7 separate regions of the Homo sapiens genome follow, and regions 1, 2, 3, 4, 5 and 7 are each reported to be linked to region 6. The links are microRNA targets in miRTarBase. Many come from high-throughput screens and were not tested one by one. Region 6 holds a microRNA gene; each other region holds the end of a gene's coding sequence. Distances are between the middles of the regions.
What was found. The annotated mature microRNA hsa-miR-6828-5p reads AGGAAGCAAGAGAACCCUGUGG and lies in region 6 at 2,339-2,360, opposite strand. An mRNA with a match to its seed (bases 2 to 7 or 8) in the 3' UTR can be bound and repressed. Matches are read on the target gene's strand: a 7mer-m8 pairs with bases 2 to 8, a 7mer-A1 pairs with bases 2 to 7 and ends in A, and an 8mer does both.

Region 1 (4,279 bases), not on the chromosome of region 6:
CCTTGTTTCTCTCTTAATCTTCAGAGCCTAGAACTGAGCTTGGCCCTCACCAGGCACTTAGAAATTGCATAATGAAAGAATTTCAGATTTTTATTAGTGGCAGTGAGCACTGAAAACCCAGTATTTGGCCAGGTCCAGTGGCTCACACCTGTAATCCCAACATGTTTGGGAGGCCAAGGCGGGAGGATGGCTTGAGGTAAGGAGTTAGAGACCAGCCTGTGCAACATAGTGAGACCTTATTCTACTAAAAAAATAAAACTAGCCAGGAGTGGTGGTTGCGTGCCTGTGGTTCCAGCTACCTAGGAGGCTGAGGTGAGAGGATCACTTGACCCCGGGGCTTCGAGGCTGCAGTGAGCCATGATCACACCACTGCACTCCAGCCTGAGCCACAGTGTGAGACCCCCATCTCACAAAAAAAGGAAAGCCTAGTATTCTATACAACCTTAACCTATTTTTTTTTTTTTTTTTTTTGAGACGGAGTCTTGCTGTGTTGCCCAGGCTGGAGTGTAGTGGTGCGATCTTGGCTCACTGCAAGCTCTGCCTCCCGGGTTCATGCCATTCTCCTGCCGCAGCCTCCTGAGTAGCTGGGACTACAGGTGTCCACTACCACGGCTGGCCAATTTTTTGTATTTTTAGTAGAGATGGGTTTTCACTGTGTTAGCTAGGATGGTCTCGATCTCCTGACCTCGTGATCTGCCCGCCTCGGCCTCCCAAAGTGCTGGGATTACAGGCGTGAGCCACCGCACCTGGCCAACCTTAACCTATTTTTAAAAAAGATGTTTATGGCTTTGCTGATAGCAGGCTGGAAAGCTAGCTGAATTTGCAGGCAACCTCAAGTAGTTAATGAAAAATTATTGTGGCTTGTCCAAAGGGATTGAGTTTTCCAAATAAAAAAGTGGGCTTCAGTTTTATGTCATTGTAAGAGGCCATGTGAGGGATGTTTGGATGCTCGCTTTGAATCTGTAGGACCACTCAATGATTTTTTAAAACCATTGGTTTCTGGCAGGCAAAACATTCAAAATCTAGGCTATCCCAGGAAATCTAGCATAAGGGCTGTCCTGCAGTAATGCATTAAACCACGTAACAAACGAACTCAAGAAGAGGGATGTGGCTCTGGATTTGTGACCCTCAACATAACATTTACCACCTTGGGCTTCGGCTTCAACATCAGTTAAATGGAGGGACACAGACGACTCTTTGGCTCTTATACTCTATGACATGATCACTGGCCACCTTAGAAAATCAAGCCTATTTAGACCACGGTTTGTGAGAAGTCAGACTCTCTGAGGCTCAGTTTCCTTATCTATAAAAAAGAAGATGATAACATTGGGAGAAGCCATCTTAAGCAGCGAGGAAAGAAAAGGACAGTGGAGTCAAGTGAACAGTCTCAGATCTCAGCCCCGTGTAATCTAAGGGAAGGTTACTGGAGCTGGGTCTACTTTCGTCATCTGCAAAATGGGGATAAGAATGCCTGTTGTAAGGACAGTTGAATGATCTTGCTCATGCCAACTTACAGAAGGTACGAAATAAACGCCGATCTCCTTTATTCTGATCTCACATTCAGCAAATGTGAGAGAAATGTGAATGTACTGAAATGTCTGCCAGAAAAAAGAAAATCCAACCCCTCAAAAGAATGACATCAGGGGTTTTGATATCTATTCACCTACACTTCCCTCTTCCACAGGAAGCGGCCCACCTTCTGACCCACACTGCCCATCTCTGTGCTTATCATGGAGCTTTCAAGAGTGAGGATCGGAGGCTGTATTGAGCAGTGGGCACAAACCACAGGGAGCGCTGTTCAAAAATGGAAAACAAGGTGGCCCTGACACCGGGTGCTGCTGGGCACCCTCTCAGACCTGCCCTGCAACAGCATCAGGAGGCTGAGGGTCCCCAGCCAGAAGGCCCAAGAGGGGCCCAGGCTGGAAACTTTACTGCGAAGCAGCCCTCATCTTAAGGTGGCTCAACACCACACCTGAGATCTAGCCCATGCGACAGTATGGAAGCAGGAGGCCCTACTCCACCACAGAAAGAACATTTATGGGCGCCTAAGCCCTGGGAGAATGGCACCTGAGGGAACAGAGCGTGCCCACAAGCAGACCTTGGGGAGGGAGAAGAGGCAGCCCTGCTCCTAGTCGCAGCCAGCGTGCGTCATGTCCAGGCCCCACAAGGGTGACCCTGGCTCAGGTTCTCATGCTCCAGAAGCTGGCCCAGGTGGCAGTGGGTTCCCTATGGAGGCAGCTCATCATTCACAACACAGCAACAAACCTTCTGCTCTCATGAGGAGAATGTATTTTAAACTTGGGAAGAGTCATAATTCTGGGATGTTTCACATGTTGTCAGCTTTAACCTTCTACAGACACAGGCCCTCTCCTCTGTGAGGAGGGACCTCTGGCATGTGTGGGTGTGTGGTGGGTCCCTCTCCCTATTAGCAGAAATGTGTTGGGCATGAGCCAGGTTTATGATTTGGATTGTGTCCTGCACATAACACCTGTGAGAATACAACTGGGACTAGGACAATGCGGGAAGCATATTCTTCATGAGGCGGTAACCAAAAGGCTTGGCTATACCAAAGGATTCTGGTGGCCGGGCACGGTGGCTCACACCTGTAATGCCAGCACTTTGGGAGGCCAAGGCGGGTAGATCACTTGAGGTCCAGGAGTTCGAGCCCAGCCTGGCCAACATGGTGAAACCCTGTCTCTACTAAACATACAACAATTAGCTGGGCATGGTGGTGGGTGCCTGTAATCCCAGCTACTGGGGAGGCTGAGACAGGAGAAATGCTTGAACCCGGGAAGCAGAGGTTGCAGTGAGCCGAGATTGCACCACAGCACTCCAGCCTGGGTGACAGAGCAAGACTCCACCTCAAAAAAAAAAAACCACAAAAAAACACAAAAGGATTCTGGGTGTAACAATCTCAGTAGAGCCAGCGGGTGACTCTGGTTCTCCTAAAATTCTGCCCTTACTTGCCACTCACCACACCCCCAGATCTGAAGGGCCAGCCCTTTTCTACCTATGACACCTCACCAGCAAGTAAAGGGCACAGGACCTCAGAAGTCTGTGGTGCTAAGGATGAAGACTCTACTCAGAGAAGGTGCTCAGCCCTAGTGAGGAGGTTCTGGGAAGCAGGTGGGCCTGCTCAATGCAGTCCCTAACCCTTGGGAGCATCCATGTGAGAGGTAAAGGTGCAAATGACTTGGGCATGTTGACTCCCTACTGAGGAAGGCAGGGCCCCTCACATCTGCAGTGGCCGTATGCATCAGAGAACGGCATGACTGCACATGTGAGAACTGGGTGCACCCGAGCAGTGTCAATAGGAATCCCTTCCCTATTCCATGCCAAACAGTCTTCCCCAGACACAAAGTTTCCAGGTCCTGAGGCTTGACTCTTCTAAGGCTCAAAATGGGTTCTGTTTCCAGACGTGCTTGCCTTGCTTGTCTTTGCTTGTCTTAAGGACTCTATTTCAGGCCAATACTTGATCCTCAGACAAACTGGGACAGGTTGGGAACTTTGATGTTGAGATCGCCAATGTTGATGTTCCGAGGAATCTCTGGCAGGTTGATGTTTTTCACAGCAGACACAGCCCGCGCAGGGGCTGCTGAAAGGCCACCCTAAGAAGAAATGAGAGGCGAGTATGAGACAAATTCTCACTGTTATCTGCTTAATGCTAAAAAAAAAAAAAAAAAAAAAGCAAAAACAAAAACAAACAAGCAGGATGGGTGTGGTGGCTCACGCCTGTAATCCCAGCACTTTGGGAGGCCGAGGTGGGTGGATCACCTGAGGTCAGGAGTTCGAGATAGGCCTGGCCAACATGGTGAAACCCCATCTCTACCAAAAATACAAAAATTGGCCAGGAGTGGTGGCGGGCCCCTGTAGTCCCAGCTACTAGGGAGGCTGAGGCAGGAAAATCGCTTGAACTCAGAAGGCGGAGGTTGCGGTGAGCTGAGATCACGCCACTGCACTCCAACCTGGGCAACAGAGTGAGACTCTGTCTCAAACAAACAAACAAACAAAATAACAGGTGAAGGATGCCTAGAAAAATTCCAAACTGAGCACACACAACTGAAGTTTTAACTTTCCCCCCTTATTCCTCAAAAGTAGCCAACAAAACAATCTTGAGGTTAGATGGGGTTTGGCACAGGGATCCAAAGCCTGCAGTCCTACTAGACTACCAGCTCCTCAGAGGCGGAGTGTGGCCTATACAGTTTCACAGCCCCAGCCTCTCACAGTACCTGGCACATGGTGGGTACCCAATAAATGCTGAAATAATCTAAGGTGATTT
Region 2 (4,235 bases), not on the chromosome of region 6:
TCCAGCAATTGTTCTATGCCTGACAACATACAGTATCATAACCACAGTGGCAGGACAGGTGGCTTTCAGCTTCCCATGCCTTCTCTCTCCTACTGGACTAGAACATCCCTGTGGGCAGGGACTGACCCTGTTGACGACTCAGGACCAAAATACGGCTTCCAGATAAAATCCAGGATGGCCAACTAGAGTCTGAATTTTACATAAACAACACATCCTTTTTTTAAAAAAGTAGAAATATGTCTCCAGCATTTCATGGGACAACTTCCACTAAAAGATTATGCATTGTGCATCTGAAATTCAAATTTCACTGGGCGCCCTAGATTTTTATTTGCTCAGTCTGCCAACACTGGACCCAAAGCACCCTGGATCTGTGGATCTCCTCTCCGCTGGACCCAGTGGGATCCAGGGATGGAGCAAACGCTAAAGGGCCGAACTTGGCTCTTCTGCAAATGAGCTGGGGGAGGGGCAGGCTGCACGGAGACCAGAGACTGGGGCGGGGCTGGGGTAGGCAGGGCTCGCTTTTCAGGGGTGGATACACAAGTGCTCCTCTCTCTGCCTGGGTGAGCTCCAGCCTGAATGCTGGAGGTTCAGCCCCATTAGAAAGATTCATTTTGAGGAAAAATAAAGACCGTGGGCTTGCTAGTGTGCAGGGTTAAGACCTAGCACCCTGCTTTCCTTCTCTTCCCTGAGCTTGGGCTCAAAGAGAGGTTTTACTACCCTTTGCTTGTGGGCACTGAGGGACATCCAGGGTTAGGAAGAGGCCGTCTACACCCAGAAGAACTGGGGCACCTGGACTCTCCCCACCCCAAAGACCCTTTGAGGAGAAACCCTCCTGTCCCTGGCCCCCTTGGAGCATTTCCAAACCCTTAACACCTTCGAAAGCCTGTGTCCAAGAGGCCCTGGGGCAGGTGGCCATGGCGTGTCTCCCTGCAGGTGGTGGAGCAGCCAGCTGGGCTCTAGAATGAGCATGGAACCTGGGCAGGCTGTCTGCCTATCAGGACCTCAGACTCTCCTCCCACAGGGAAGCCCAACCCCTGTGGGGACTGAATTGAACAAGAGTCACAAGCCCAGTGGCACCTGACATGTCTCAGAAGGGTCAGCAAATGTCCCTTTCGTCTAGGGACAGAGGGGGTCTCGGACCCTCTAGGGACAGAGGGGGTCTCGGACACTCTAGGGACAGAGGGGGTCTCGGACACTCTAGGGGCAGAGGGGGTCTCGGACACTAGGGGCAGAGGGGGTCTTGGGCACTCTGTTGGGTCTGGCACCAGGCTGATATCCCAGCAGCTCTTCCTGACCCACCCGTGGCCTCTGCCCGTTGTCTGCCTTCTGACCTCAGGCTTCAGGCTCTGCCCAGGACCACCCTTCTCCACTCGAGGGCTCTGCTAGCAGGCCTGGTTTTGAAGGCCTCAGGCCACCTGCAGGCCACACCTTTCCAGGAATGGTAGTGGAACGGTTTCCTTCCCTGTTCTGCGGGAGTGCCACCCTCTACCTCCCCTCTCCCACCCCCAGACCCAGCCAGGCAGAAGCCACCCACAGGGTGGGGGACACCACCAAGGGCTAAGGGTCACTCTGGTCACCAACTGTGGGCCTGAACAAGAGGCTTCCCTTCCCCTCCCGAGTCTTCAGTTCTCCTCAGCTAGAAAAACAGGGAGACGACGTCCACGCCTGGCATGGGCCTTTGTGTACCAGCCGGTGAAGGACAGGCCCAATTCTCGTGCCCAGCAGGCAGTTTGCCAGAAGCAAGATCACCCTCCTTCCACCCCCGGGGTGGCAAAGGACATTCATTCCGTGGAGGGGGAGGGGACTGTGTAACTCACTCTAAATGGGGCTGGGGTGACCGGGGAGTGGGAGGGACCACTCACAAAAGCCAGGGCTAGAAACTCCCAACGGCTTTTTTTTAAAGAACTTCCCTTCCCCCTCCCCTCCCCATGCTGGGCTCCCCTCCCCCACGTCCAGCCGCTGGTGGCCTGCAGCCAACACTGGCCACACTGTCCGCATTCAGGCCTCCCCGCCCTCCTGGCCCTCATCTCTCCCCAGCCTTCCCCACACTGGCTCTCTCGCCACCTCGCCACCCCCCACCACTCTGAACCACGTTGACCTCTTCCGCCCTGGCGCCCCGCACAGACCCGGGCCCCTTGGTCCCAGGCGGGCAGGGGAAGGGCTTCGGAGGCCGGGAGCAGCCCCGCGCCCGCCAGGCCCCCAGCCCCGCGGTCCCTGGCCCTGTGCGGCCACCTCAACCAGGAGGAAGATCGCTGCGTCTGCAGAAAGCTGGCCACCGCCGCCGCGTTCCCGGGTCGCGGCTTCCTGGCCCGCTGAGCCGCACCCCGGAGTTCGGCCCAGTCCCGTCGCCCCCTCTGGGACCTTAACCCCTTCCTCCCCCGCGACACCAAGGGCCTTGGCCTTGCCACCCTAAGGGAGAAGGGTGAGGAGTCCCAGCTCTCCTCGCTAAGGAAGTGGGGGTGGCAGGCCTCGCTCCCCCGCCCTCCTCCCCGTCCCCATCCATCTCGCAGGAAGCCCCCCGCCCCCCACCCCGGCAGCGCTCGCCGCGCCTCTAGTGGGAGCCTCTGGCCTGGTGGTTTCCGGGGAGAGAGCCCGAAGAGCAAGGGCCTCGGCAGCTTCCTCAGTGGGGCAGGGCCGGCGATGCCAGCCAGGGACGCCGGAGAGGCTGGGGGTCCCCGCCCCGCGGAACCTGCCCTACCGGGCGCGATTATTAAGAAGGAACCTCCCTGCCCCGCCAGGGCTTGCGCCTGGGTGTGTTGAGCCCCAGGGGTGGAGGCTACGGGGGAGGAGAGCCAAAGGTCAGCCGCTGCCCAGTGGGTGCCGCGAGGGAGACTAGCCCCACCCGCGTGTCCGCGCCGCCCACCCCTGCACCCCCTCCTCCCCTACCCAGAACCCAGGGTTTGCCAGTGCCTTGGGCACCGCCGGCCGGAAAGCCCTGGGGGCGGGGACGGCTCCCACACCCACCCCCCCGCAGGAATTCCCCTTCCCAGCCGGGCGCCTCTCGACTTCCCAGGGAGCGGGGTCACCCTCCTGCGCCGGCGCCGCGGCCCGCAAAACCAGCCCACTTCGCTGGTGCAAAGGTTCAGCACAGGGCTCGAAGGCGGAGTTGGTGGCGAGAGGGGTCCGCTCATCTCAAACAGCGAAAATGCACCTTCAACATCTCCATTTAATATTTACATTCAAGCAGGTAATAGTTGGAAGCTTATAGTTTAGACATTTCTAGTAGCAGCAGTTTCTAGAGAGCTCGTGTAGCCTTTTAACAAACTTTTTTTTTTTTTTTTTTTTGCACATAGAAACAAGACATCCATGTGTACAGTATCAAAAAATATATACCAAGGTTACTGGTATTGCAGTTCGTGGAAGGGGAAGAGAGGGGAGAAAATGAAATCAACCGAAATACTGGATGGAGGGGAAGAAAGGTCAAAAGAAAATAGTTTGTCTGATATAGAATATAACATGATCTAGAGGAAACTCCATAAATCTAGGTTTTTATATTTCAATATATAAATACCTACAAATAAATATATATATAGCAGCCCGAAGGGGGGTGGTCGGGCCTTTTGAGCTCAAACAATACATTTCAATAATAACACCACGTACAAACGGGAGTAGAGTCAGCACTTGACAAGTTAGCACGGTTAAAATATAATACTAGAACTCTGAGGCCGGGCGCAGAGCTGCCCTGTCCGTTCCGGGGGTCCATCTCCAGCGGGGAAGGGCAGGAGAGGGCGAGCCCCGCCGGCACCGCGTGGAAGGGGCCTCCGCCCAGGTCTGACAGCCGCCGCAGGGGGAACATGGTTACCTCCGCTCCGGGCGTCCTCACCCTGGGGGCCAGCCTGGGTCTCTCGCGGTTGGCGGGTTGGCGAGAGGGGAGCCCGCCCCGAGGCCCCAGGTGCTCAGCTCCCCGCCCCCCCGCGGGAATGGCGCTTCCCCTTCCGACGCCCTCCGGCTACACCGTCACGTACTCCTTGAAAGTAACGGTGAGGCAGTTCGCGGTGACGTCGGTGATAATTATATTCCCAAAGAAGGGCTTGAACTCGCTCAGCGACTCTGCAGGTTCGTCCTGGGCCTCGGCTGGAGGCTTCTCCGCCGTCGTGGTGGGTGCCGCTGCCGCCGCCACCGCCACCGCCGCCGACGCCGGTGTCTCGGGCTTCACCTGGAGGGAGCTGGGCGGCTCCCCGGCCTCGCTGCGCGTCTTGACGCAGCGCAAGTCTATGGGTTCATCCAGGTCTGAG
Region 3 (4,279 bases), not on the chromosome of region 6:
GGTGGAGGTTGCAGTGAGCCAAGATCGTGCCATTGCACTCCAGCCTGGGTGACAGAGTGAAACTCCATCTCAAAAAAAAAAAAAAAAAAAAAAAAAAGAAACAAATTACTCCTCATAGTGATGAATTTCCTATTTAACTTACAGCTTTTATTATACATTTTACTAGCCTCATCCAATTTAAATTTTACTGGGTCTTTTCTTAAATAGCCTTTTAAATATTTTATAGTAAATGTTGATTACTTAATGCATTGTTTCTCAATCACTTTTTCATTATCACTTTCCTAAGGAGCCTTTTTAGACTTTTTTTTCCCTAATCACCCCCACCCTGTGAAATTTTAGTATCTGTTTATGTACTGTATGTATATCCATGCTTTATATATGCAAAGGGTAAGATTTTTTTCACCCTCCCAAGAACACAATTTTCACCCTTTTAGAGGCAAGATTGCTCACTTCAAGAATGTATGACCTACTGGGGCACTATAGGAAAATGTCATTTTAACTTTGACAGTGAATCTCAAGCCCATGTATTTTGTTTTTATAGCTGCCTGCCTCTCAAACATCACATGGTGACCACTCCAACACTACTACTGTGGGGAGAGAATGACGCATTCATGGAGGTTGAGATGGCTGAAGTCACAAAGATTTATGTTAAAAACTATTTCAGGCTAACTATTTTGTCAGAAGCCAGTCATTGGCTTCAGCAAGACCAACCTGACATAGTGAACAAATTGATATGGACATTTCTAAAAGAAGAAACAAGAAAAAAAGATTGACTTTTCTTTATCTTCTATGAAGGGTCTGTAATGAAATCTCTAAATAATTTTTAAAAATTGTTCATCAACTTCTTTATGTTTTATTAGAAAAAAACTGTTTTAATGTGCTTTATCATAAATAAATATCCTGACAAATGGTATTGAAAAAAATCTGAGATCATGTGAACATATAATACAATGTTGATTTTCTTCTGGTGTATTTTGCACAGACAAGCATCTGCCTTAAAATATATACACTTGTACAAAAAGGAAGTTTGGAGTAAGTGCTTCCATTTTGGTTTCTTGCTTTTTTTTACTCTGTTAACATATGGTGCCTTTTACAAATGTATATTAAAGATTAGCTGTGCCATATTATAAGGCAAACCTGAAATAATATAAATTTTCATTCTATTGTTCAAAAATTCTTTTTACTATTTTTAACCATTAAAAAGTTATATTATCGAATCTCTTTGGATTTATAGTATATCTATTAGTTTGAAGGCAAATATAGCTAAATGAATATGCATTTTTAAAATGGGCCATATACTATTTATACTGGGAACATTAAACCATTTTTTAAAGCTGACATCTTGGCTGGGCGTGGTGGCTCATGCCTGTAATCTCAGCACTGTGGGAAGCCAAGGCGGGAGAATCACTTGAGACCAGGAGTTTGAGACCAGCCTGGCCAACATGGTAAAACCTCATCTCTACCAAAAATAAATAAAAAATAAAAGTGGGCAGGCGTAGGCGTGCACACCTGAAGTCCCAGCTACTCATGAGGCTGAGGTGAGAAGATCGCTTGTGTCCAGGAGCTTGAGGTTGCAGTGAGCCATGATTGGGCCATTGCACTCCAGCCTGGGCAATGGAGTGAGACCCTGTTGGAACGGAAAGGGAAAGGGAGAGGGAAAAGGAAGGAAAGGATCCTTTTACCCCATTCAATGCAACGAGAATTGAATATTACACATCTTATATGCACTAGAATCTAAGCTCCACAGGGCAGGGATTTTTTTGTTGTTTTATTAACTGATACATATTCAAGTCTAGACTAAGGGCCTGGCATATTGTAGGCACTCAAACATTTGCTTAATGAATAAATAATATATCTGGCACACTGCTAGGCACTGCGGGGGGGTGGGGAATATAAAAGAAAGATAAGGTGGTAACATAGAACTTTCCCATAAGAAGCCTTAAGGGCTGGGTGTGGTGGCTCATGCTTGTAATTCCAGCACTTTGGGAGGCTGAGATGGGTGGATCACCTGAGGTCAGGAGTTCGAGACCAGCCTGGCCAACATGGTGAAACCTCATCTCTACCAAAAATACAAAAATTAGCCGGGGATGGTGGCAAATGCCTGTAATCCCAGCTACTTGGGAGGCTGAGGCAGGAGAATTGCTTGAACCTGGGAGGCAGAGGTTGCAGTGAGCCAAGATTGCACCACTGCATTCCAGCCTGGGCAACAAGAGCAAAAAAAAAAAAAAAAAAAAAAAAAAAAAAAAAAAAAAAGACGCATACATAGAATGCAGTCAAATTAAATAAAGGTTCAAGAGTAGAAATGAACATTATAAGTAAGAGTTGAAAAGAGTTACAGAATAGAGAACAATACCAACTCAGGGGACTACTACTCATTCTTTTGGGTTGTTCCCCTTTAACATGGGAGGCAACCAGTAACACTGCCAAATCACATCACAGAACAAATAAGCCCTAAATTGGTGAAAGGATTGCTTCCCTCATTAAGCATAGTTCTGATCGTGACAGAACAAAGGAGAATGTCCCTAAGAATTCTCATTACTGTATCACAGCAAGTTGTATTTACAACAAAAATCCAATTCTCTATACAACACATTGCTTCGTAACAACATGCAAGGTAGGTATCACCAATTTATAAATAGTAAAAATGTGATTTAACGTGTAACTTTGCCAATGCCCATAGTGTAAGTTCTGGAGCTAGGATCTGACCTAGAGCCATCTGGTGGTAAAGCCCATGATCCCACTTACACCAGATACCATTTAGCAGACTTGTGGTATCCACGCCACTCTTCCTGTTTCAGCAGTAATCTGGTGTGTTTCAATAGATGGCCATATCTCTCAGGAACCTACAATTTGACTTTTAATTTTGGGAGGGAAAAGGAATTCAAATTAGCCATTAGTAAACATAGGAATATTCTATAGAGCATTGTCAGAGTTGCAAATGCCACAAGGTATAGAAAAATCCTGGTTCATACCAACTTGTTGCTTCCCTCTTGATCCCTCCAGAAGGGCAGCAACAAGGGAAAGAATGGGACGTGTTGACACAGTAAAGTAATCCTGACTTATTTTAATAAAAACCTGTTACTGACAAAGGTGATTTTAAGATTTGTTGTTGTTGCTACTTATGTCAGTTTAGGAAGCTGACAAGTTCATGTGGACTAATTTTAAGAATTTATCAATCAAACATTCCATGGGCAATTCCGGCCTATTACAATGAATGTACTCTAATTTTTAATAGATATGGAAAAGTACTTGTAACAGATATAAAGCCTCAAGGGTGCCATCTTGAGTTAAACCTCTTAGGATAAACAGTTATTACTATCTCTGTAGAAATCTATTGGTAGGGCAAGTAAGTGAATTTGATTTACTAGCTGCCAAAGCAGCTCACAGTAAATAAAAACAGGTAATGGCACCTAAATTAAAAGTTGTAATTATTAATAATATTCATCTATTCAAATTAATATATCCCTAGTAGTATATAATATATGCCTAATTTAACATCAGAAATTGCTATGTGAAAATAATTTATTAGGCATATGTCAAAAGCAAGATGTTTGCAAAAAAAGAAAGAAAGAATGTGCTGTTGATATGATTCAAATTCTCCTGTTACATCATTTACCATCTTTGATTTTTCTGATTTTAAAGGTAATGCAGCATTTTCTATTAACCTACAATTTCCTCTAACAGTTCTAATTATGTGCAAACAGAAAAAGCAGTTGGATGTGGGGAAGGGTGCATGTCAAAGGCTGCCCCCAAATCCAGGCTACACACAGCCTGGGTCTGCTAAGTCGGTTTCACGGCTCTGCATCCACAGACTCTGAGTTGGAGGCGAAGGAGTCTGGGATCACGCAGGAGCTAATCAAGTCCTTGTATCCTCAGCAGACACGCCTCTGTGCATGGTGCTGGACCTGCATCATCCTCGTGGGTACGAATGTCCTGCATCGCCTTCCTCTTCATCTGGCCAGTGGCCATGCTTTCCACCTTTGGCTATCCTGCTCAAATCCTGCAACCCTGCCAAGAGTTGGAGAAAAAAAACTGGTGAAACCAGTACTCAAGCTCATGCTTCAGGTGGCTTTCTTTTTACTTGGGTTCCTGGCTAAAGTGAAAGGGAAAAAGGCAACCCAAGACAAGGCCCCTATCTTCGTTACAGCACCACGGTCCACTTTCTTTGACTCAATCCCCTGTGTGGTGGCAGGGTTACCCTCAGTGGTCTCTGCAAGTCAAAATGTGCAGATCCCATTGGCTGGGAAATTCCTACTGTCAACACAGCTGGTGCTTGTGA
Region 4 (4,279 bases), 45 Mb from region 6:
GGAGCTGTGACTGGGTCTGCCTTCCGTAGCAGCTGCCTGGACAGCCAGCCTGAGCTTTCCTCACTCCTTTCTTCCTCTTAGCACTTTCCCTATGCATCCCTAACATTTTTCTTTCCCAGTTTATTCCAACCGAAACTGTATGCAGAGACTCCAGTGACAGTGGGATCCATATGGGACTTGCTCTTCACCTGAGGCCACCTTGGTGTCAAAAGCCTTTGCAGTCCCTCTTAGCTGCTTGCTGTGTGAGCCTTAGCTCTTGAAATCACTCCTTATTCAACTTTCTTTTCAATAGACCTACGAGAATTTTCTCTTTCTGCTCTTCTCAATTTTCCAGCCTCTCCATTCCATTATTTTTGACAAAAAAAAAGGCAAAGAAAAGCTACAGAGCCCCAACATGATACCATTTGGAGGGCAAAACCTCTCTTTGTTGGTTATTTCCTATCAGGTAGGTACAGCTTTATACTTTTCTACTTAGGGAGGGTAAATATCACTCTCTCTGTCTCTTTTTATTTTATTTGATACTTTGTATTTCTCATGCTTTGAGTTCATATATACCTGTACATATACCTTTCAAGAATTATGTTTTAAACATTTAAATACATGTGTGTTTACAGATAATTTCTTTATGCCCAGTAGACTCACCTCTACTGTTCAGTCTCTGTTCTGTCCTTCTCACCATCCTCTGTGTCTCTCTCACTGCAGGAGCTTGCGGTCCCCTCAGGAGCAGATCATCTTGGCGCCGTCCCTGGCTAAGGTTGACATGGAGATGACTCAGCTCACCCAGGAGAATGCAGACTTCGCCACTCGGGATCGCTACCACCACTCCTCCCTCGTGAACCGGGAGCAGCTGATGCCTCACTACTAGATGCAGTGCTGGGACCTTCCTCTTTTGGAGCTGTCCCATGTACAGTGGACCCAAGCTCAGGACCTTCGTGGAGCTGCTTCTCCAACCTGAGAAACTCAAGACCCATCCTCCCGCTGTCACTTTGGACAATGGAAATCTACATTTTCTTTTCCCTTTTTTTTTTTTTTTGAGACAGAGTCTCGCCCTGTCACCCAGGCTGGAGTCCAGTGGCACAATCTTGGCTCACTGCAACCTCTGCTTCCCGAGTTCAAGCAATTCTCCTGCCTCAGCCTCCTGAGTAGCTGGGATTATAGGCATGCACCACCACACCCAGCTATTTTTTGTATTTTTACTGGAGACAGGGTTTCACCATGTTGGCCAGGCTGGTCTCGAACTCCTGACCTCGTGATCCACCCGTCTCAGCCTCCCAAAGTACTGGGATTACAGGCGTGAGCCACCATGCCTGGCCAGAAATCTATGTTTTCTTAGAACATGTGGAAGAAGGAAAAAGACAAAAAAGGAAATCTGGATTCTGAGGACCACGTCTCACCCAGGGTGACATCAGGAATGGTGCTAGCCTCTGCAACACGACACCCAGTCTGAAGAGCTCTATACAGGTACTAAGACTAGCAGGGGACACCAAGACTCTGCACAACCAGATTGCTTGTGCAGAGGGCCACAATAAGTGTATGTTTTATATTTTATTGTATTATTTATTCAAAAATAAATAATACACTCACATGTTTCCACACCCAAAAGATATATAGAGTGAAAAGTCTCCCTCCAATCCTTATTCTCCACCTGCTCAGTTCCTGTCTACCCTGGCCTAGAGGTAACCACTATTCTCATCCGTACATCCAGCATTTCTTTATGGATATACAAGCAAATGGGAATGTAGAGTCTCACATTCTCTCTTTATACACAAAAGTTAGCACGTTATACACATGTTCTGCACCTTGCTTTTTTCCCTTAACAATCTATCTTGGAGACATTTCATATCAATTCATATGCCATTTGTTCATTTTTTTCATTGTATAAATGTGTTATAATTTATTTCGCCAGTTCCACAATGATGAGCATTTGGATTCTTTCCAATCTTTTGCAATGACAATCAGCTCTGCAGTGAATAATCTTGTACAAATGTGCAAGCATAAAGTGTATCTCTAGGATAAATTCCCAAAAGTGGAATTGCAGGATCAAAAGGTACATGCATTTGTAAACTATTATTGTTTAGTGAGGGTCTTTTTAATTAAAGAATTAACATGAATTGCCTAATGGTGACTCATATTCTCAAAAGAATTTGTGGTCCTCAACTCCTGGAATGCCTTCGCAGCTGTTTTGCAACATGAAAGGCATGAGGGGACAGGACTCTTTTGGTTTCCTTATGAGCTCTGCCTGACATTCATCACAAGCACCCAGTACCGGGGGCCGTGGCAGTAGCTTTCCCCAGAAAAGTTTAGCACTTGGCCCAGGGTCAGAGGCTTCGCCATCAAGCCATGGAGGAAAGTACTGTTGGATCACTTCTGGCTCCTTCTTCTATAGTGGAGGTTCTCATGAATCAGTGGGCTAACAATCACCTGGGATGCTTGTCAAAAGTGCAGATTTCAGGCTGGGCTTGGTGGTTCACGCCGGTAATCCCAGCACTTTGGGAGGCTGAGACGGGTGGATCACTTGAGGTCAGGAGTTCGAGACCTGCCTGGCCAACATGATGAAACCCCGTCTCTACTAAAAATACAAAAAATTAGCTGGATGTGATGGCGGGCACCTGTAATCCCAGCTACTTGGGAGGTTGAGGCAGGAGAATCGCTTGAATCTGGGAGGCAGAGGTTGCAGTGAGCCGAGGTCACACCACTGCACTCCAGCCTGGGCAACAAGAGTGAAACTCTGTCTCAAAAAAAAAAAAGTGCAGATTTCTGCATCTCACCCCTAAACTTTTTATTTGGCAAGTCTGAGATGGAGTCCTAGACTTTACATCTTTAACAAGTGCCTCAGGTGATTCAATGCAGGCAGTCCTTGGACCGCATTTTGAGAAATGCTGAGCTGTTGAATGGAAGGGGCTTAGTGTGGGTGAGGGCTGGGAAGGTCAGGATGAAGGGTCAGCTAGATCCTAATGTTCTCTCCTGGAAGATGAGGTTTCATTTATTATTACTGTTCTCACAATCTGGCTTTAGTTAAATACCAGATTTCTGAGCATCATTAGAAAGCAGAGTCTGAGTTGGCAGTAGGCATGTAGGAAGGAGAAATGCTGAAAAAGGTTGTAGCTATGAAGGGCTAAGTTGGGTGACCTTGGAGGACCTTTTTATTTATTTTTGAGACAGGGTCTCACTCTGTCATCCAAACCGGAGTGCAGTGGCATGATCATAGCTCACTGCAGCCTCCACCTCCTAGGTTCAAGTGATCCTCTCACTTCAGCTTCCTAAGTAGCTGAGACTACAGGTACACACCACCACGCCTGGCTAATTTTTTTGGTATATTACCCAGGCGCTTTTTAAGAAGAAGCTGTTCTAGTTTCCTGTGGCTACTATACCAAATTACATAAATCGGATGGCTTAAAAACAACAGAAATGTATTCTTTCACAGTTCTGGAGGCCAGACATCTGAAATCAGTAACACTTAGGTTAATTCAAGGTGTCAGCAGGGCCGAGCTCCCTTCAGAGGCTCCACGAGGGATTTATTCCCTGCCTCTTCCAGCTTCTGGTGGCTTGTGATCACATCACCCAAATCTTTAAAGCCAACATTTTCAAATCTCTCTGTTCCATCTTTACATCACCCTCTCCTCTGTGTATATGAAGTCTACCTCTGTCTCCTTTCTGTAAGGATACATGTGATTGCATTCAGGGACCACCCAGATAATCCAGGATCCTCTCCACATCTCAAGAGCTGTACTTTAATCACATCTGCAAACGCTTTGCCAAAAGAGGAAACATTCACAGGTTCCAGGGAATAGGACGTGGGTCTTTTGGGGGGCCCTTTTTCAGCCTATCACAGAACCTTTACTGAATCTGCTTTTTTGAATTCTACATAACAAGCTAAAAAAGTAACCACTCTGTTTAAGCCCTTTGGGAGCCCTCATTGCCTCCCCATTGATGGATTAGGTAAGGACATGATCTAACCTTGGCCAAGAGCACCTGAGATGGGGTCTCAGGGCTTCCAGAGATGGTTGCCCTTTCTCATGGATATTGTTGGCCCCACACATGATGCCTGTATGAGACTCATCGAGTTTCCAACTCTTCTAGCCCAGGAGTTGCCTGCCTTACACTGCCCTGGATTGTGTGACAAAGAGTTTAAGCCACTTCAATCCTGGGGTTCCTGCTCATTGCATGGGATGGATTGAGAACAGTATCAGGCACTGCTCGCCTTAAGCACCAAGTGCAGGAGCCACCTGTGCTCCCAAGGCGTGTGCTTCAGTTGGTGCTTTGTCACAGTCATTTACTG
Region 5 (4,247 bases), not on the chromosome of region 6:
TACTTGTTAGGAAGTCAACTTTGGCAAAAGGTTTAAGACTTCGATTCAAGTGGAAAAAAAGATTGTCAAAGCTAAAATTTCTTCAGCAAGAAGAGATTTTTAAAATATTTAGCCAAATGGTTTCTTGAATCTTAGCTACAGAGAAATTTTTACATTAAAGAACATCATGATTATCACAACAACTTACTTAGCACTTGCGTGTACTAAGTGCTGCACTAAGACATTGTAGTTTCCAGTGTCTTGAACCAACCTGGGAAAAATATCAGTGGTGAGGGTTCAGTGTTTGTATATGGAGGATGGTGCAAACTGAATTATTCCCATAAAGCTGCTTGGTAATTCCAGAGAAAGCACACAGCCACCTTCTCATTAGAAGGAGGGTAGGGATAGGTGTTATGGTGAAAAACTGAGATGCTGCTGGATCCCAGGCCAGAGGACCTAAAGAAATACTCTCTCCATTAGGAGCCCACCCTGTGGAGGAACTTGAGCCTACTCCAGATGGGGACTGGGTAGGAACATCAGTGCCATTTTTCTTCAGATGAATATTGTAGACCCAGAAGGAAGCACCTTGTAAGCAGGAAAAATAAATTTGTGCTGAAATAATGGATGTAAAATACTTCTCCCTGTCCACTATTGTCAAAACAAATCAAAGAGGAACAGGAGGAGGAAGGGAATGTTGAACATTTATTATGTGACAGGCACAGTATTAAAAACAAAATGAAATGGGACATTTTAAAATGTTAGGCTGAGATGATGTCTTTTGGTTCATTGCACCCTTTCCATTTTATCTGAATTCCTTTGGCTTGTATGTGCTTTTCCTAATATCAGTACAAATTCAAGCTGATATCTTCTGCAGCGTGATTCAAACTAAAGAGGCAATAATCTACTGATAAGAATAATAAGTAAATTGTTTCATTGCAATATTATCTCTTAGCTGCTTGTGTAAGTCATTTACAAGTTTATCTGTAATTTATCAGACCCACCTGGTAGCTTTAATAGAGATGTAGTCAGTATTCTCATGGGGGAAAAAATAACCTCTTCCTTATTGCTCCGGATGTCTCAAAGGCATGCACATTCTGTACTGGCATCAAGTCTGGCTATCTTAGCTCATAAAAGAGCTGGATTCTTACCTCCTAATGTAATTCTAAAGTACCAAATTAGACATGGGTAGAAAAGCAATGTATCCTTTATGTGTATTTGTCTCCAAAATAAAACAGTAAAAACTTGAGACAGATTTAATATTTTGTCTCAAAAATTCACTAGCTGGTACCTGTGGTCACTTCATCTGAATCTACTTGAGGAAACAGAGGTCTGCGTATTTGGTGATGTCATGGGGGTATCCAGGCACTTGGTAATGTCACAGAGGGGATTTATGCATTTGGCGATGTCATACCTGGTGGTGGGGGGAGGTCTGTTCACTTGGTGATGACATAGAGTCGTTCGACCTAGGCAGAAGTTTTACATTCTGTCGTTCACTTTAAAACTATAATGGTCTGTAATGGACCCCAAAGCTCTATTTCTAATTTTGCCACCAGGGCCCACATCCCTGTACTTTAAAATGAGAAAGGGTTTAAGGATACCAAATGTTTTGGTAATTTAAAACTACCAAAAAAAAAAAAACATAGAAGGAATAAGACCTAGTATTTGATAGCACAACAGAGTGACTATAGCCAATATTAATTTAATTGTACATTTTAAAATAACTAAGAGTATCATTGGATTGTAACACAAAGGATAAATGCTGCAGGGAATAAATACCCCATTTTACATAATGTGATTATTACACATTGCATATCTGTATCAAAACATCTCATGTACCCCATAAATATATACCCCTACTATGTACCCATAAAAACTAAAATTAGGAATTAAAAAAAATCACTAGCTGCTACCTGCAGTCACTTGATCTGTGTGCTTGAGGAAAGAGAAGGAATTGGCTTGATGCTTCTTACCCAAAAAAAATTATTTGTGAACACCAATCCCTCCATCCATGTAAATGCATGAACATTAACTTAACAATTTTAGCTCTTACTGCTTTTCCACCTGCGCCTAGTGAGTAGTTAAAGATGTAATTTACAGGACTTTAGATCTTTCCCCTAAGAACTCTTTTTCTTTTTCTTTTCTGTACTTATCTTAATATCGTTAAGAGATGGCAGCCAAGGGTAAAACTGAGTCTTCTTGGGCTGACTATGATGAAAATGCCAAGTGTAATCTGAGCACAGCCCTGAACTTGGGCTGGTAGCCCTTCTGTCCACTTTATCTACTGGGAACTCTTGGGACACCCTGCAGAAGGAGCTCAGGCTGGAAGCAGAAACAACCCATCTGAGCTAAGAGAAAGAATTTAACCTTTTTAAAGGCAGCCTGTTATGCCTGACAGAATAAACTTACCTTTCCTCACTAAAACTGTCTATCCTTCACATTCCAGGAATCCCTTCTAAAAAACATATTCCATGCCCTTTTTCAAGAGAATCCAGCCAATCATTTCAGCTCAGACATCTCTCCCATGTAAATGCTGGAAGCTATCCTCCAAGCCTTTCCTTTTTCTATAGCACTTGCTGCTAAGGATAATTATATGGTTTCTCATCAACAGAATGTAAATTCTCCCAGTGCCCATGAATACATACTGGCCCAGAGGAAAACAGGTGAGAAATATGTCAAAAGAACTTGTAATACAAGCCTTCATATACATGGCAGGGGAAGGCCTGGTGCCTCCTTTTCTTACAAAATAGGAAAAATAGCACCTAAACCTGCAGGTTTGTTGAGGCTCACACTGTTTAGAATGGCATTGAACAAACATCTGGCACAGGAAATGCCCATTATAAGTCACCTGTTTCCATTTATGTCTCAATCTCAAATGTGGTGAGACGTGCCACAGCGATTAGTATGGCAGATTACAGGGGCTGATCCCCATCTTTTACTCACAACCCTGTAACTGTTTCTTCTTGATAAAGTAATGGTGATAGATAGGGACACTACACACAAACCATTCATGGATTCTCCCCTAAGTCTGTGCAATCGTCCGTATATGTATTAAATCTAAAAGCAAAAAAAAAAAAAACCAATCAAATAAAATGCTAAAGTGTATTAAAAGTTGTCATAATGCAAATTTTATTTTGATTAGTTTTTGTGACTCCTTTATCTTAAACCCAGCGATGCTTGCCACTTCCCAAGGTGTAAAAATGTGAAGATTAAGGTAAACTGAATGTCGAGGAGTGTAAAGAGATGGCAAAACACAGATAAAAACATCCAAAAAGCCTCTGGGGGCAGGTCAAGCTTATGATTCAACAGTTAGAAAACCAAAATTACTTGGACATCCCCTTCTACTTAAAGTGATATACTGGAATTGAAAATATTAACTGTTAGTTTTAGAAACTAAGATTACTTGAAGTAGGCTCATTCCAGAATGCTTTTCTTTTTTCCTTCCTGAAACAATTACATCAAACTTAGATATCCTAATGTTTATTTTTAGATATACTCCTTAAAGGCATTTATGTTCACCCTTTTCGAGGATGAGAAATTTACATTAACTAATAAACTTAACATTGATCTTAAGAACTGGTTTTTGATAAGACTAGTGTGACAGAGGTACTAGTAGAGCAAAAAAGCAGGATTCCAGATTTTATTTTTTAGAAGATTGAAAAAACACACCCAGGACAACATTTCTTTGATCAATAAACTTTCAGGAAATGGAGGAAGCTGTTTTGGGACACATTCAAAGCTAGTTAACTTGAACTTGGAAATAGGGTTTTGACAATCCAACTATGGGAAACAAATCTCTGAACAAATTTTAAATGAAACCTCACCCCCCCAAACTGTTCAAGTGGCAGACAAAATAAATTACCATAAATTATATGCCAACACACCTTTTAAAAAACAACAACAGCAACAACAAAAACCCAGGAGTCTGAGGATTTCCTTAGCTCCTCCAGGAAGTGTGTAACACTGCTTCTGGCCTGCAGGCTGGGGCGGATCAGGGACCTGTCACACGTCAGGATAGTTGCAGTAATATACCGCGGAGCTGGCGTCGGACACCACCGAGGAAATGGCCCCGTGGCTGTCGGGGAGATTCACACCGGAGTCATGCCCCTGGTAGGGGAGGCCCATCTCAGGCTTGCACACGAAGTGCAGATACTGTTCAAATTCCGTGCGGTCCACCTCCCCGAGGAGCTCGGCGGGCTGACTGGGGTCCGTGCCGTCCCGGCAGGGCAGTGCCTCCGGAGGGGGCGACGGCTGTCCGGGGCCCGGGGGGT
Region 6 (4,279 bases):
AATTCTGTTGTTTTTAGGGTTGTTTAAACTACGTATACTTTGCTTTTATCCCTCTATTTTCCAGGGTTTGTATGTTTGTTTTAGTGTGTTCTCTCACTTGTGGATACCTGTGACATTCATATGGAAGGCCAGAATTTCTAAACATGAGCACTCAACACAACAGACCCACCTTTTGGCTCTGCCATCCTCAGAGCCCAAGAGAACCTTCCGGGGCTTCTGTGAGAATGTGAGGAAAGTAACAAACAGCAAGTGTCTAGGAGAAGGGTTTCACCTGGATTCTGCAAACCAAGTTTACTTGTGGAGCTTTCACTTTCCTGTTGGAAAGGGAGTCAGACAATAGACCTGACCTCCATAGAGCACTGCAAGAGGGAGCCCCTGTGAGTCAGATAAAGCACCGGATGCTGATATGTGTTCCGTGTGACGCTGGCACACAAATTCTTTGTGGCTGGAACCAAAATTTCCACATTCAGATTTTTCTCTGGAAATTAGTGGCCTTTTCACTCCTGTTAACACACACACACGCGCGCACACACACACACACACACACACACCCTTGTGGCTTCACAAGAACCTGCAAACCTCCGTCCCTTTGCAATCCTGGAAAATGGTGCCCCACCTCTCATGTCCCCTCACCTTACTGGTGTCATTATGAGTGTGAGGCCTCCAGATGGGAGGTACCCACCAAGTGGCATCAACCCACACAGAACCCTGACCCCTTATCCTTACCCCTCAAATTCATCATCTGATATGCCAATCTGGGGGTATGAATTCCTTGTTTCAGAAGAAGGTGATTTTATATCTAACCCATTACCAGACTAATTTGTTGTCACTGATATGCGCACTTTGCAACAAGAGTTGTTCTTAAAATTCATATTGTCTATTAGGATTTAGAATGTGCTAATGAAACTAGCATCTGAGGGAAAAAAACGGAGAGAAATTAAATCACTGACGAGAAGAGAGCTAGAAGGACCCTCCATAGGTTGTTAAATGAAGCCCTTTATGTGCAGGTATAATCAGCAAAACCAAATGAGCACATGCCATTTCCTGTCCCTGGACTGTCCCTCCCCTCAATTCATGACCAGCCCACCTCCTCTTCAAGTCTCAGAGCTTACTGCTGGGTTCTTCCACTCTGGAAACTCATCCAGTCTGGGTTAGGTGCCTTCCTATGTGTATGCACAGACTATATACCTTTTCTACATGAGCACATACCATATTCTATTGAGGTTTCCAAGTACACTCAAAGCAAAGACGGCCTATTTTCCCCAGTGTCCCCAGTACCTACCATGGTGTCTGGCCCACATGCTCAAGGAAGGCTTACTGAGTTAAAGGACGGAGCCATCACCTGGTGGTCTAACCACCCTCAACTCCTGACTTTTCTCTTGCCCTCTTCTTTACTTTTTTCTTTCTTTCTTTTTTCTTTTTCTTTTTCTTTTTTTTTTTTTTTGGAGTTGCACTCTGTCACCCAGGATGGAACGCAGTAGCGTGATCTCAGCTCACCGCAACCTCTGCCTCCTGGGTTCAAATCATTCTCCTGCCTTAGCAACCCCCGCCCCGAGTAGCTGGGATTACAGGCATGCACCACCATACCTGGCTAATTTTTGTATTTTTAGTAGAGATGGGGTTTCACCATGTTGGCCAGGCTGGTCTTGAACTTCCAACCTCAGGTGATCCGCCCACCTCGGCCTCCTTCTTTATTAACTGAGCTGCTCAGTCTTGCCTGCACATAAGCATCACCTGGGAAGCTTTCAAAAAATATCTTTGCCTGGCCTGATGCCCAGAAAATTCTGATTCAATTGATCTGCTGTGGGACCTGGGCATAGGTGTTCAAAAAGGATTCCACTGTGAAGACTGAGAAGGCTTCCATCTTTCAGGTCTTTCCCTTAGGTATTTCCTACCTTCAAAATCCTCTTTCTCTTTTTAAACTTATCTTCATGGTCAGTGACTCCCAGAGACATTACTTAGCCCTCTGTGTAAACTGCCCATAAAATACAAAGGGATACAGATTGTGGGAGTCCATCCCCCACTGGCTTCACTTGGCTTCCTTTCACATTTCTCTTGAACTTGAGAAGGCAGCAACCACAAGATCTGAGATTCATCAGGCTCCCTCATAGGTAGGGTACCACTGAGAAAGCTGTCTTACCCAGCAGAATGAGCAAAACACCAGCCAGCTGGGCCCGCCTGTACTTAGCCACACCGGGCTCCTGGCCCATCCGGATGCAGGGAAGAACAGTCAGCAGCAGTAAAATGGCCGGCAGACCCAGGACCGAGGCAGCAATCATCAGGGCGCGGCAGGCCTGCACGTAGCCTGGGAACAAGAGAGCAGATGGGAAAGGTTAGACCACAGGGTTCTCTTGCTTCCTGAGCCCTGCCTTAGGGGAATTCAGCACCATCTCCCTTCCTCCTTCTTGGTGGATTCCAGGACTTAGAAGGTGCTAATGTTGTCCAAGGTCACTAAGCACTTTTTAACTTTTAAAACAACTCAGCAAGAAAAAAGGGGGCTGGAGAAACTAAATGGGGACCCCTGGTTTAGGCCACTTGGCCAAGCTTCCAGGATGGAGGGGCCAAGAGTCCATTTACATTATTACATCCCCCTGAGAAAGTTCAGATGAAAACTGAAATCTCCCAAGAATCATTCTGTGAGGGCCTCTATTGGTTCCAGTCTGCTATTGATAGCTCTACCTGTGTGACCTTGGGCAAGTTACTTAACCATGATGTCTTATTTTCCACATCTATAAAGTAACAACAGGCCAGGCATGGTGGCTCACACCTCTAATCCCAGCACTTTGGGAGGCCAAGGCAGGTGGATCTTCTGAGGTCAGGAGTTCAAGATCAGCCTGGCCAACAGGGCGAAACCCCATCTCTACTAAAAATACAAAAATTAGCCTGGTGTGGTGGTGTGAGCCTGTAGTCCCAGCTACTTGGGGAGGCTGAGGCAGCAGAATCGCTTGAACCTGAGAGGGGGAGGTTGCAGTGAGCTGAGATCGAGCCACTGCACTCCAGCCCAGGTGACAGAGCGAGACTCTTTCTCAAAATAAATAAATAAATAAACAAACAAAGTATTGATAATAATATAATAGTACCTACATCTCTGTAATAGAATTCTACTGAAGATTACATTAGTTAATTTATTTAGTGCTTAAAACAGTGCCTATACCAAATCCTCAAAAAAGGTTAGTTGTTATCATTGGTGTTCTTTGTCTGTCTCAGTGCAGCGCTTTCATCTTCAGGTGTCCTAGGTGATTTTCTCCTAACCATGTGCTTTCATTCACATTGGCTGTGGCCCTAACCCAGACTAAACTAAGACTCAGGCTTCCTCTCTTTGCTGTCTCCCCAGAGGCTGCTGTCCTCATGGATCCTGCCCCTAAATTGTTGGACCCCATCTCCTGCCTCACCCACAGTGCCCTGGGCATCCTTCCCCAACTGTCCATCATTGCTTAAAAGGCATCTCTCCAGCCCTCAGGGTTCCTGGAGGGCAGACACCTGCCTTGGTATTCACGGAGTTAACACAGTGCCCACAACAGATCATGGAAACAATTGCGAATCAAGGAATAAGAGAACTGAAAAATAGAAGAGTAGAGCAAAACTACATGAACTTTATCCTGTCAAGTAAAATGCCAAGTAAAAACTGTATTAAGAAACAGATTACAATATGTGTCACATTTATTTAGAATAAATCTGACAAGATACTGGGAGAATTTCACAGACAAATTTGTTTCACTTTCAAATGTAATGTTTCTCATTAAAACTCTCCCTCCTCTTAAAAAAGGTGGGGGGGGTCACATTTATTACCCTCCCTTTTTTGCTCAGAAGGAACTAGTACTAGTGGCCTGGGTGAGGCAGAGTTCATAGCAAAGCCAGGAATCTAGCCGACATCTGCCTCACACACCACGACCCTCACGTGCAAAAAGGCCTAACTTCAACGCTGTCTCTTAGCAAGGAACGTTTTGCCAGAATTCGGACTTCACAAGGGCCCTCTTCCAGCACTGCCCATCTCAGCTCCTTCAGAATTAAAGATAATCAGTCAAGTGTCTACTGACTTGAAGATCTCCAGAAAGGAGCTCCAGGAAGTCTGAGGCCCATCCCCTGACCCAGCCGTCCGCCTCTGCGGCTTGTAGAGAGCCAGTACTCACACAAAGCAGGCAGTCAACTGGCAATGCAGGTTCTGAAATCCATGGCACTGGCTGTCCACATGCTACAGTGCCAAGGCCATGTCCGGACACCAAAAGATAGGGACAGAGGACTGTTCCTGCCTCCACCCAAAGTATGAGGGAGGGGGAAG
Region 7 (4,279 bases), not on the chromosome of region 6:
ATAGGTGAGGTAGGTGCCTGGAGAGGAGGTTTTGGGGGAAGGGATGAAGGGGAGGAGAGAGCTTAGAGGACTCTGGAGAACAAAGTCCATCTCCACTAACTTCACAGGTTCTGCCACCAGGGTGAGGGTGAGGGGCAAGTCTTTGTTCCCAACTAGTTCCGGGCAGGCTGAGAGCCAGAATGACCACCAGGAGCAGCCAGCCCCACAGGCGAGCAATGAGGGCCTGCTTTAGCTACAGTGGGGCTCCTGAGTGGGAGGGGTACGTACATGCGCTGTATTAAGCTCAGAGCCCTCTGAAACCCCCTTCTCACCGGTCACCTTCCCCACTCTAGCAGCGGCTAACAGAGGAGCTGCAGACAGTGGAGAATGGTTACCATGACAACCCAACACTGGAAGTGATGGAGACCTCTTCTGAGATGCAGGAGAAGAAGGTGGTCAGCCTCAACGGGGAGCTGGGGGACAGCTGGATCGTCCCTCTGGACAACCTGACCAAGGACGACCTGGATGAGGAGGAAGACACACACCTCTAGTCCGGTCTGCCGGTGGCCTCCAGCAGCACCACAGAGCTCCAGACCAACCACCCCAAGTGCCGTTTGGATGGGGAAGGGAAAGACTGGGGAGGGAGAGTGAACTCCGAGGGGTGTCCCCTCCCAATCCCCCCAGGGCCTTAATTTTTCCCTTTTCAACCTGAACAAATCACATTCTGTCCAGATTCCTCTTGTAAAATAACCCACTAGTGCCTGAGCTCAGTGCTGCTGGATGATGAGGGAGATCAAGAAAAAGCCACGTAAGGGACTTTATAGATGAACTAGTGGAATCCCTTCATTCTGCAGTGAGATTGCCGAGACCTGAAGAGGGTAAGTGACTTGCCCAAGGTCAGAGCCACTTGGTGACAGAGCCAGGATGAGAACAAAGATTCCATTTGCACCATGCCACACTGCTGTGTTCACATGTGCCTTCCGTCCAGAGCAGTCCCGGGCAGGGGTGAAACTCCAGCAGGTGGCTGGGCTGGAAAGGAGGGCAGGGCTACATCCTGGCTCGGTGGGATCTGACGACCTGAAAGTCCAGCTCCCAAGTTTTCCTTCTCCTACCCCAGCCTCGTGTACCCATCTTCCCACCCTCTATGTTCTTACCCCTCCCTACACTCAGTGTTTGTTCCCACTTACTCTGTCCTGGGGCCTCTGGGATTAGCACAGGTTATTCATAACCTTGAACCCCTTGTTCTGGATTCGGATTTTCTCACATTTGCTTCGTGAGATGGGGGCTTAACCCACACAGGTCTCCGTGCGTGAACCAGGTCTGCTTAGGGGACCTGCGTGCAGGTGAGGAGAGAAGGGGACACTCGAGTCCAGGCTGGTATCTCAGGGCAGCTGATGAGGGGTCAGCAGGAACACTGGCCCATTGCCCCTGGCACTCCTTGCAGAGGCCACCCACGATCTTCTTTGGGCTTCCATTTCCACCAGGGACTAAAATCTGCTGTAGCTAGTGAGAGCAGCGTGTTCCTTTTGTTGTTCACTGCTCAGCTGATGGGAGTGATTCCCTGAGACCCAGTATGAAAGAGCAGTGGCTGCAGGAGAGGCCTTCCCGGGGCCCCCCATCAGCGATGTGTCTTCAGAGACAATCCATTAAAGCAGCCAGGAAGGACAGGCTTTCCCCTGTATATCATAGGAAACTCAGGGACATTTCAAGTTGCTGAGAGTTTTGTTATAGTTGTTTTCTAACCCAGCCCTCCACTGCCAAAGGCCAAAAGCTCAGACAGTTGGCAGACGTCCAGTTAGCTCATCTCACTCACTCTGATTCTCCTGTGCCACAGGAAAAGAGGGCCTGGAAAGCGCAGTGCATGCTGGGTGCATGAAGGGCAGCCTGGGGGACAGACTGTTGTGGGAACGTCCCACTGTCCTGGCCTGGAGCTAGGCCTTGCTGTTCCTCTTCTCTGTGAGCCTAGTGGGGCTGCTGCGGTTCTCTTGCAGTTTCTGGTGGCATCTCAGGGGAACACAAAGCTATGTCTATTCCCCAATATAGGACTTTTATGGGCTCGGCAGTTAGCTGCCATGTAGAAGGCTCCTAAGCAGTGGGCATGGTGAGGTTTCATCTGATTGAGAAGGGGGAATCCTGTGTGGAATGTTGAACTTTCGCCATGGTCTCCATCGTTCTGGGCGTAAATTCCCTGGGATCAAGTAGGAAAATGGGCAGAACTGCTTAGGGGAATGAAATTGCCATTTTTCGGGTGAAACGCCACACCTCCAGGGTCTTAAGAGTCAGGCTCCGGCTGTAGTAGCTCTGATGAAATAGGCTATCCACTCGGGATGGCTTACTTTTTAAAAGGGTAGGGGGAGGGGCTGGGGAAGATCTGTCCTGCACCATCTGCCTAATTCCTTCCTCACAGTCTGTAGCCATCTGATATCCTAGGGGAAAAGGAAGGCCAGGGGTTCACATAGGGCCCCAGCGAGTTTCCCAGGAGTTAGAGGGATGCGAGGCTAACAAGTTCCAAAAACATCTGCCCCGATGCTCTAGTGTTTGGAGGTGGGCAGGATGGAGAACAGTGCCTGTTTGGGGGAAAACAGGAAATCTTGTTAGGCTTGAGTGAGGTGTTTGCTTCCTTCTTGCCCAGCGCTGGGTTCTCTCCACCCAGTAGGTTTTCTGTTGTGGTCCCGTGGGAGAGGCCAGACTGGATTATTCCTCCTTTGCTGATCCTGGGTCACACTTCACCAGCCAGGGCTTTTGACGGAGACAGCAAATAGGCCTCTGCAAATCAATCAAAGGCTGCAACCCTATGGCCTCTTGGAGACAGATGATGACTGGCAAGGACTAGAGAGCAGGAGTGCCTGGCCAGGTCGGTCCTGACTCTCCTGACTCTCCATCGCTCTGTCCAAGGAGAACCCGGAGAGGCTCTGGGCTGATTCAGAGGTTACTGCTTTATATTCGTCCAAACTGTGTTAGTCTAGGCTTAGGACAGCTTCAGAATCTGACACCTTGCCTTGCTCTTGCCACCAGGACACCTATGTCAACAGGCCAAACAGCCATGCATCTATAAAGGTCATCATCTTCTGCCACCTTTACTGGGTTCTAAATGCTCTCTGATAATTCAGAGAGCATTGGGTCTGGGAAGAGGTAAGAGGAACACTAGAAGCTCAGCATGACTTAAACAGGTTGTAGCAAAGACAGTTTATCATCAGCTCTTTCAGTGGTAAACTGTGGTTTCCCCAAGCTGCACAGGAGGCCAGAAACCACAAGTATGATGACTAGGAAGCCTACTGTCATGAGAGTGGGGAGACAGGCAGCAAAGCTTATGAAGGAGGTACAGAATATTCTTTGCGTTGTAAGACAGAATACGGGTTTAATCTAGTCTAGGCACCAGATTTTTTTCCCGCTTGATAAGGAAAGCTAGCAGAAAGTTTATTTAAACCACTTCTTGAGCTTTATCTTTTTTGACAATATACTGGAGAAACTTTGAAGAACAAGTTCAAACTGATACATATACACATATTTTTTTGATAATGTAAATACAGTGACCATGTTAACCTACCCTGCACTGCTTTAAGTGAACATACTTTGAAAAAGCATTATGTTAGCTGAGTGATGGCCAAGTTTTTTCTCTGGACAGGAATGTAAATGTCTTACTGGAAATGACAAGTTTTTGCTTGATTTTTTTTTTTAAACAAAAAATGAAATATAACAAGACAAACTTATGATAAAGTATTTGTCTTGTAGATCAGGTGTTTTGTTTTGTTTTTTTAATTTTAAAATGCAACCCTGCCCCCTCCCCAGCAAAGTCACAGCTCCATTTCAGTAAAGGTTGGAGTCAATATGCTCTGGTTGGCAGGCAACCCTGTAGTCATGGAGAAAGGTATTTCAAGATCTAGTCCAATCTTTTTCTAGAGAAAAAGATAATCTGAAGCTCACAAAGATGAAGTGACTTCCTCAAAATCACATGGTTCAGGACAGAAACAAGATTAAAACCTGGATCCACAGACTGTGCGCCTCAGAAGGAATAATCGGTAAATTAAGAATTGCTACTCGAAGGTGCCAGAATGACACAAAGGACAGAATTCCTTTCCCAGTTGTTACCCTAGCAAGGCTAGGGAGGGCATGAACACAAACATAAGAACTGGTCTTCTACACTTTCTCTGAATCATTTAGGTTTAAGATGTAAGTGAACAATTCTTTCTTTCTGCCAAGAAACAAAGTTTTGGATGAGCTTTTATATATGGAACTTACTCCAACAGGACTGAGGGACCAAGGAAACATGATGGGGGAGGCAGAGAGGGCAAGAGTAAAA

Region 1: the mRNA of AP3S2 is a reported target of hsa-miR-6828-5p. Seed matches in the 3' UTR shown: 7mer-m8 at 3,119-3,125, 7mer-m8 at 2,791-2,797, 7mer-m8 at 2,522-2,528 and 8mer at 1,998-2,005.
Region 2: the mRNA of CBX4 is a reported target of hsa-miR-6828-5p. Seed matches in the 3' UTR shown: 7mer-A1 at 3,196-3,202.
Region 3: the mRNA of EPHX4 is a reported target of hsa-miR-6828-5p. The part of its 3' UTR that is shown has no 7-base or 8-base seed match.
Region 4: the mRNA of SLC12A8 is a reported target of hsa-miR-6828-5p. Seed matches in the 3' UTR shown: 7mer-m8 at 1,101-1,107.
Region 5: the mRNA of SOX17 is a reported target of hsa-miR-6828-5p. The part of its 3' UTR that is shown has no 7-base or 8-base seed match.
Region 7: miRTarBase lists PODXL as a target of hsa-miR-6828-5p. Seed matches in the 3' UTR shown: 7mer-A1 at 1,447-1,453 and 7mer-m8 at 2,594-2,600.

The regions. Positions count from the first base shown.
Region 1 is chr15:89,832,036-89,836,314 of GRCh38, forward strand. It overlaps AP3S2 (adaptor related protein complex 3 subunit sigma 2), which reads right to left. Exons shown (of 6, transcript NM_005829.5): 6 at 1-3,608. The coding sequence ends at 3,480. ARPIN-AP3S2 (ARPIN-AP3S2 readthrough) reads right to left here. Exons shown (of 10, transcript NM_001199058.2): 10 at 1-3,608. The coding sequence ends at 3,480. It overlaps LOC124903552 (a long non-coding RNA gene), which reads left to right and starts at 3,874. Exons shown (of 2, transcript XR_007064754.1): 1 at 3,874-4,279.
Region 2 is chr17:79,830,010-79,834,244 of GRCh38, forward strand. CBX4 (chromobox 4) reads right to left here. Exons shown (of 5, transcript NM_003655.3): 5 at 3,147-4,235. The coding sequence ends at 3,950. Among named protein-coding and RNA genes, the nearest start is that of CBX4, 7.3 kb to the right of the region's middle. RefSeq lists an enhancer at 1,865-2,686.
Region 3 is chr1:92,062,514-92,066,792 of GRCh38, forward strand. EPHX4 (epoxide hydrolase 4) reads left to right here. Exons shown (of 7, transcript NM_173567.5): 7 at 542-1,025. The coding sequence ends at 773. It also overlaps the pseudogene LPCAT2BP. Among named protein-coding and RNA genes, the nearest start is that of SETSIP, 11 kb to the right of the region's middle.
Region 4 is chr3:125,080,476-125,084,754 of GRCh38, reverse strand. SLC12A8 (solute carrier family 12 member 8) reads left to right here. Exons shown (of 14, transcript NM_024628.6): 14 at 703-2,111. The coding sequence ends at 865. It overlaps LOC124906278 (a long non-coding RNA gene), which reads left to right and starts at 2,689. Exons shown (of 3, transcript XR_007096045.1): 1 at 2,689-4,279.
Region 5 is chr8:54,459,727-54,463,973 of GRCh38, reverse strand. SOX17 (SRY-box transcription factor 17) reads right to left here. Exons shown (of 2, transcript NM_022454.4): 2 at 3,082-4,247. The coding sequence ends at 3,979. Among named protein-coding and RNA genes, the nearest start is that of SOX17, 3.9 kb to the right of the region's middle.
Region 6 is chr3:170,421,189-170,425,467 of GRCh38, reverse strand. It overlaps MIR6828 (microRNA 6828), which reads right to left and starts at 2,365; the gene lies at 2,306-2,365. CLDN11 (claudin 11) reads right to left here. Exons shown (of 3, transcript NM_005602.6): 2 at 2,141-2,305. RefSeq lists an enhancer at 1-113.
Region 7 is chr7:131,500,562-131,504,840 of GRCh38, reverse strand. It overlaps PODXL (podocalyxin like), which reads left to right. Exons shown (of 9, transcript NM_001018111.3): 9 at 333-4,279. The coding sequence ends at 530. Among named protein-coding and RNA genes, the nearest start is that of PODXL, 54 kb to the left of the region's middle.